2 linked regions of the Homo sapiens genome follow. The protein of the gene in region 1 purifies or fractionates together with the protein of each later gene. This does not show direct contact. Each region holds a gene or a part of one and is shown in the gene's direction. Other genes may lie near its edges. The genes, in order: DCAF12L1 and DRG1.

What was found.
Region 2: the proteins of DCAF12L1 (region 1) and DRG1 purify together in Homo sapiens (co-immunoprecipitation; one large-scale study listed by IntAct). This does not show direct contact.

What each region holds. Positions count from the first base shown.
Region 1 is NC_000023.11:126,550,433-126,554,346, reverse strand, and holds the start of DCAF12L1 (DDB1- and CUL4-associated factor 12-like protein 1), read left to right. Parts: upstream 1-1,532; 5' UTR 1,533-1,738; coding exon 1,739-3,130; 3' UTR 3,131-3,152; intron 3,153-3,239; 3' UTR 3,240-3,914.
Region 2 is NC_000022.11:31,426,918-31,430,731, forward strand, and holds part of DRG1 (developmentally-regulated GTP-binding protein 1), read left to right. Parts: intron 1-142; coding exon 143-265; intron 266-3,814. UniProt on the Homo sapiens protein: Catalyzes the conversion of GTP to GDP through hydrolysis of the gamma-phosphate bond in GTP. Appears to have an intrinsic GTPase activity that is stimulated by ZC3H15/DFRP1 binding likely by increasing the affinity for the potassium ions.

The sequences.
Region 1 (3,914 bases):
CACTATTACCACCAGCAGATGCAGCCTTTCTATTGCTATAGGATGAATGATATGGGGAGGAATCAAAAGTGAGGTGCAAGGGAGTGTTGGGGTACACTGGAAGGCAGCTGCTGGATTGGAGTGGTGAGAAGGACCTATGGCTTTTACTTGGAATTTGTGCACTTGAGGCGAAGTTGCAAAAAGGGATGGGGGAAGGGGACAGAAAACCAGAAAAATAAAGAGGGGGTTGGGGAGAAGCAGCAACAAAATAACTCTTATGGTTTTCCCTGATCAGGAAGTAAATTAATCACCGCAGGTGTCAGCACCCCACACCCTCAGGCCGGCCTGCCCACTCGCCTGCTCTTCCCACTGCCTCAGCCCCTCCCGCTTGGCTTTCCTCGTGGATCTGTCCACACACTGACTTTGTTCTCACTGCCCTCTCTCCCCAATGTATCACTGTGTAACTGAAATCACTGGGTAACTGAGTATGCCCCGTTTGCGCCTGCCACCTGACTGGCTGCTCTGAAGCAGCAGAACTGGATAAGAACTTTATGAACTCTGAGAAGTTATTCATGCACAGAACCTCTAAACTTGCATCATTGTATCCACGTTGTTGCCTTCTTCTGGAACGTTATGTTCTCTGCACGTGAAAATCCTCTGCCTCTAGACCCTGTCCCAAGGTCCCAGGGACTCTGCTTGGGCGCCTCTGGGACTGACAACAGGGATATTAACTTTGCTTCTCAGGAGTGGGGAAGAGGTCCCCCTCTCAGGATCCTTCCACTCCCTCTCCTTAGGGCTCTGAGGCTCAAAGGAAGCAAACACCTCCAAAAAGCCCCTCAGGATTCCTCCCCCATTAGTACAGCCTACCATTTTCTCAAGGCTGCACCAAACCAAGTGTTCGCTGATATCACCATGGGCCAAATGTGGGTCCCAGGGATTTGCATTTGGATTGTACTCCTCAAGGGACTGTGGCAGTAGCTCAGAGACCTCAATTTGAGGAGGGAAAAAATATTTGTTTGAAACTGTTTAAGACATCAACTGAGGGGCTGAAACTTGAGGGGTTGCAGGTCTGACATATGGGTAAAGGTCTCCCTGCGCTGCCGAATCCCCCATCCCTTGCCAAGTTTAATGTCTAATCTTAGCGAAGGGTGTCCCAGGATTACACCAAGTGCACACTGGTTTCTCCAGACAGATCGTGGCCTGGGCTCCTTCTAGCCCCGTGCTTGACTATATCGTAGGTTTCAGATTTTATTGAAGTAGGGATTTTAAGAAGGGTAGTTAGCTGTTGTCCTGAGGGTAGCGAAATGCCGCGTGTCTGATACTTGGGATCCTGGCTTGCGGGCCCTCCTAGACTCTGCCCTTGCAGCTCCGCTACCCCCTCCCCTCCCTGTCCCTCCCAGCCTTCACCCCGCCCGGCCTCAGCTACTCCTCAGGCACCCCACGCGCTCACAACCGCCTGCCCGACCGCCTGCTCCTCCCACTGCCTCCGCCCCTCCCACTCGGCCCCCCGCGTCGATCTCGCCGCACGCTGACTTTGCTCTCACTGCCCGGCCAGACGCACTTCCCGCCTTCGCCTAGGTCTGCACCGCCACCGCCGCCCTCTCCCGCGCGTCCCTCACCCGGTCCGCCACTGCCGCGCCTCAGAATCCGAAGGCTCGGTTCCAGCGCAGCCATCCACGCCGCCGCCACGACCGACTCCGGAGCCACGCGCTGCAACCGCCACCAACGCCTTGCCGCCGCCGCTCGCCCGCCGCCCACCATGGCCCAGCAGCAAACAGGTAGCAGGAAACGGAAAGCGCCCGCGGTCGAGGCGGACGCCGAGAGCTCGCCGTCGCAGGGCTTGGCGGCAGCGGACGGTGAGGGGCCGCTGCTACTCAAGAGGCAGAGGCGGCCGGCGACGTATCGCTCGATGGCGCACTATCTGAAGGTTCGGGAGGTAGGCGGGTGGGGCCCCGCCAGGCTCCAGGGCTTCGATGGCGAGCTGCGGGGCTACGCGGTACAGAGGCTGCCCGAGCTGCTGACGGAGCGCCAACTGGAGCTGGGCACGGTCAACAAGGTGTTCGCGTCACAGTGGCTGAACTCCAGGCAGGTGGTGTGCGGCACCAAGTGTAACACGCTTTTCGTGGTGGACGTGGAGTCAGGCCACATCGCGCGCATTCCCCTCTTGCGGGACAGTGAGGCCAGGCTGGCCCAGGACCAACAGGGCTGCGGCATCCATGCCATCGAGCTGAATCCCTCCAAGACGCTTCTGGCCACCGGCGGCGAAAACCCCAACAGCCTGGCCATCTACCAGCTGCCCTCCCTGGATCCCCTGTGCCTGGGCGACCGCCATGGCCACAAGGACTGGATCTTCGCCGTCGCCTGGCTGAGTGACACCGTAGCCGTGAGCGGCTCCCGCGACGGCACTGTGGCGCTGTGGCGGATGGACCCGGACAAGTTCGATGACACTGTTGCCTGGCATAGCGAGGTGGGTCTCCCCGTATATGCCCACATCCGTCCGAGGGATGTGGAGGCCATCCCCAGGGCCATCATCAACCCCAGTAACCGCAAGGTGCGGGCCCTGGCCTGCGGCGGCAAGAACCAGGAACTGGGAGCGGTGTCCTTGGACGGCTACTTCCACCTGTGGAAAGCCGGGAGCGCACTATCCAGGCTGCTGTCCATCAGGCTGCCCTACTTCCGGGATAATGTGTGCCTGACCTACTGTGATGATATGTCTGTGTACGCCGTGGGCTCCCATTCCCACGTCTCTTTCCTGGATCTGCGCCAGGACCAGCAGAACATCCGGCCCCTGTGTTCTCGAGAGGGTGGCACAGGCGTGCGGTCGCTGAGCTTCTACCGCCACATCATCACTGTGGGCACCGGTCAGGGCTCCCTGCTCTTCTATGACGTCCGGGCCCAGAAATTCCTGGAGGAAAGAGCCTCCGCCACCCTGGAGTCCTCTTCGGGACCTGCAAGGAGGAAGCTCAGGCTTGCCTGTGGCAGAGGCTGGCTCAACCACAATGATTTCTGGGTGAATTACTTTGGTGGCATGGAAGTGTTTCCCAATGCGCTCTACACCCACTGCTACAACTGGCCTGAGATGAAGCTCTTTGTGGCTGGGGGGCCTCTCCCTGCAGGCCTCCATGGGAACTATGCAGGCCTCTGGAGCTAAGGATGACCGCCTTGTACTCCAGGTACACAGATTTACCTTTCAGTTCCGCCCGACTGCCCTTCATGCTGCATTTTTTTGCTTTTAACTCTGTGCGTCTTTTGTTTTCCAGGTGGAACCAGCCCAGCTTAATTTGTACTCCTCCAAGCAGAGAGAGTGAGTGGTCCTTTGGTCAATGAAAACTTGGCTTTAAGACTTTTTGACTCCTTTCCAACACCATCTTTTGGAATTTTCATACAAAGAAATTTGGTTAATCGTTAATCTTTAGTTGCATTCTCTCTTTGAGTGATTCATACATTCTGTTTCTTTAAGAAGATGCAGTCATGGTCTTTCAGTTATGTATATTTGTTTTCCTTGTTTTTCCTCGTTACCAATATTACAACAGCATTGTTTTCAGTTATTTTTCATTGCAGATACGAAGAGAAAATTTTCTAGTAAGCAAGGTGTTCCTACATCTTTTCTGGAGAGCTTACCATAGTTTTATAGCATTGTTCAATTGGAAAAGTACATTCCAAGTTCTAGATTACCTACGTTTGGAAACACTTAATTTACAAATTGTGATCTTAGTGTATATAGTTTTTACGTTGTTGGTGCTAAAGTGCTTTTTTGAAGTTTATTCTCTTTCAAAATAAGTTATCATAGAATCTTGTGCTTGTATCAAACTCCTAATTGGTCGGAACACTTTAGGAGTGCAGGGGTTCTGCTTCATTGCATTTTCAGAATTAACCTGAAAGTTGAAACAACCATTTTTTTTTATTTCAAAACTTATTTAAGTTGTTATCACCTG
Region 2 (3,814 bases), on another chromosome or scaffold:
TCATTAGGTCATATTGAGGACACTTTTTCCCTTAAGTTGGAGGTTGTCCTGGTCTGATGTCAGGGGTGATGGAGGGTTGCTATACATTCAACACATGAGATAGTCTAAGAAGGCAGTAATCTTTATGCCCTCTCTATTCTAGTTACACCAAACCCAAAGGCCAGTTACCAGATTACACATCCCCAGTGGTGCTTCCTTACTCCAGGACCACAGTGGAGGATTTCTGCATGAAGATTCACAAAAATCTTATCAAAGAATTTAAATAGTAAGTATCATGGGCCTGTGGTCCCTCCTTTTTCCTATGAGTTACCAATTTTACTAACTAGTAATTCTTAGGATAGCATTTTAAAAAAGAAGGCAGGAAGGAGGCTACTGAAATGTTTGCTTGGCTAGAACTCTGCAGTGTCTTCTTAAAACCGTGCCTAATTAGAATAGGAAGAGCTCTAGAAACCTCTTTAGGTCAGGAAGCCTGATGACACAAACAACCCTGACCTTCCCTCATTATTTCATCTTCCTCTTGGCAAACACAAATATTAATAATTCCTGCCAATGTCACACTGGCCTCTACTGGGTACTGAGCCCCCTTCTAAACCTTAAACATGGGCAAAACCTCCCTAATCTCTTACATTTTTCACTGCTGACACAGGCTGAAAAAAAATTATTTTATTTTTGCGACGGTCTTGCTGTTGCCTTGGCTGGAGGGAGTGGTGAGATCATAGCTCACTGGAGCCTCAATCTTCTGGGCTCAAGCAGTCCTCATGCCTCAGCCTCCTGAGTAGCTGGGACTACAGGTGCACACCATTATACCCGGCTAATTTTTAATTTTTCATTTTTTGAGACAGTCTCGCTTTTGTTGCCCAGGCTGGAGTGCAATGGCGTGATCTTGGCTCACTGCAACTTATGCTTCCCGGGTTCAAGTGATTCTCCTGCCTCAACCTCCTGAGTAGCTGGGATTACAGGCATGTGCCACCCACCATGCCCAGCTAATTTTGTATTTTTAGTAGAAACGGGGTTCCTCCATGTTGGTTAGGCTGGTCTTGAACTCTTGACCTCAGCCCCCCAAAGTGCTGGGATTACAGGCATGAGCCACCGTGCCTGGCCTTAAAAAATGTTTATTAGAGACGAGGTCTTGCTTTGTTTCCCAGGCTGGTCTTGAATTCCTGAGCTCGAGCAATTCACCTGCTTCAGCCTCCCAAAGTGTTAGGATTATAGGTGTGAGCCACTATGCCCAGCATATTAATTTTTTATTTTGAACTTATTTTAGACCAATAGCAAAGTTGCAAATACAGCACAAAGTTTCTTTTTTTTTTTTGAGACGGAGTCTCGCTGTGTCGCCCAGGCTGGAGTGCAGTGGCGCAATCTTGGCTCACTGCAAGCTCTGCCTCCAGGGTTCATGCCATTCTCCTGCCTCAGCCTCCCGAGTAGCTGGGACTACAGGTGCCCGCCACCACGCCCGGCTAATTTTTTTGTATTTTTCAGTAGAGATGGGGTTTCACCGTGTTAGCCAGGATGGTCTTGATCTCCTGACCTTGTGATCTGCCCGCCTCGGCCTCCCAAAGTGCCGGGATTACAGGCGTGAGCCACTGCGCCCAGCCCAAAGTTTCCTTTTATCTCTCACCCCACTTCTAATGTTAACAGCTCACATTACTATAAAATTATCAAAAACAGGAAATAAGCATTGGTATGATGTTGTTAACTATAGATCTTATTTGAAATTTATTACTTTTTCTTTTACTAGTGTCTGTTTTGTGTTCCAGGAACCTGTGTGGCATTTAGTTGTTGCTTGTTTGTAGTCTTGTGTTCTAGTCTACCAGTAATATTTCCTTAGACTTTCACTGTCATTGATGATCTTGACACTTTTGAAGAGTGTTCACTAGTTATTTGATTGAATATTCCTTAGTTTGAGTTTGTCCAGTGTTCTCTCATGATTGAAATGAGATTATGCATTTTTGGTAAGAATACCACAAAAATAATGATATGTTCTTCTCAATGTATCATTACATGAGATTCATGATGTTGATATACCTCACCGATGATAATATTCACATTGATTACTTGGTTAAGTTGGTGTAGGGTGGGTTTCTCTGCCGTGAAGGTAGTATTTTTCTCTCCGTATTTTATAAGTATCTCGGGGTACTTTTGAGACTGTGAAAGTCCTTTTTCTCTTCAAATTTTTGCCTGCTATTAGCATCTACTGGTGAGGCTTGTTTGTGACATTTATGGCTATGGTGTTTACCTAGCCATAGGCTGGAGTGTAGTGGCACGATATCAGCTCACTGCAACCTCTGGCTCCTGGGTTCAAGCAATTCTTCTGCCTCAGCCTCCTGAGTAGCTGGTACTACAGGCGTGTGCCACCGTGCCCGGCTAATTTTTGTATTTTTAGTAGAAATTTTTGTATTTTTAGTAGTCAGGCTGGTCTCAAACTCCTGACCTCAGGTGATCTGCCTGCCTCGGCCTCCCAAAGTGCTGGGATTACACACAGGCATGAGCTACCACGCCTGGCCTAATGGTGATTCTTTATTTTCCTTTTTTATTTTACATTTATTTATTGGACTTCTGTGTGTTAGAGCTACCACTTCTTTATTTAACTCATAATTCCTATCAGTATGAGCTCTTGGTTATTTTATTCTATAGGATGTAATCTAATACTATTATTATTTTGTTGCTCAAATTACTACAAAGCTTTGGCCATTAGGAACTCTTTCATGTTGGCCCCTGTGTTCTTTTGATAAGCTCCTTTTTTTTTTTTGAGACACGGTCTCACTGTTGTCCAAGCCGGAGTGCAGTGGCACGATCACAGCTCACTGTAGCCTTGATCTCATGGGCTCAAGCCTCAGCCTGCCTCAGCCTCCTGAGTAGTTGGAACTCCAAGTGTGCGCCACCATGCCCAGCTAGTTTTTTCTATTTTTTTTGTAGAGACAAGGTCCGACTTGTGTTGCCCAGACTGGTCTCCAATGCCTGGGCTCTAGTGATCCGCCTACCTTCACCTCCCAAAGTGCTGGGATTACAGGCATGAGCCATTTATTTATTGTAGAGATGGGGTCTTGCAATGTTGCCCAGGCTTCTCAAACTCCTGGGTTCAAGTGATCCTTCCATCTCTGCCTCCCAAAGTGCAGGATTACAGGCATCAGCCACCCTTTCCTTACTTTTTGATAGTGTTAATACTTAGATGTTCCCAAATGACATTGATTTTGCCTGCACTAGCCCTGAAAATTAGTCACTTCTCCAAGGAGCCCCAGTTTTCAAGATGTGGGTGCTAAGCATGCTCATTGTTAGCAAGTAGGTTATCATTGCCTGTAGGCCCTCTCAGCAAATAAAGTTAGGAAATACATGTATGGATACTAATGATGCTTATATACACAACTGTATTTCTGTATCTGTCTTATCCTTCCTCACTATCCATCATTTATCCATCTTTCCTAAAAACCATGAGTTTATACTGTTATCTCTGATTCTAGTTCAATACTACAGGGTTAATTTTTTTTTTTTTTTCTTTTTTTGAGATGGAGTCTCGCTCTGTCGCCCAGGCTAGAGTGCAGTGGCGCCATCTCCGCTCACTGCAAGCTCTGCTTCCCGGGTTCACGCCATTCTCCTGCCTCAGCCTCCTGAGTAGCTGGGACTACAGGCACCCGCCACCACACTCGTCTAATTTTTTATATTTTTAGTAGAGATGGGGTCTCACCGTGTTAGCCAGGATGGTCTTGATCTCCTGACCTCGTGATCCGCCCGCCTCGGCCTCTCAAAGTGCTGGGATTACAGGCGTGAGCCATCATGCCCGGCCACTACAGGGTTCATTTTAGCCTTCCCACTTAGT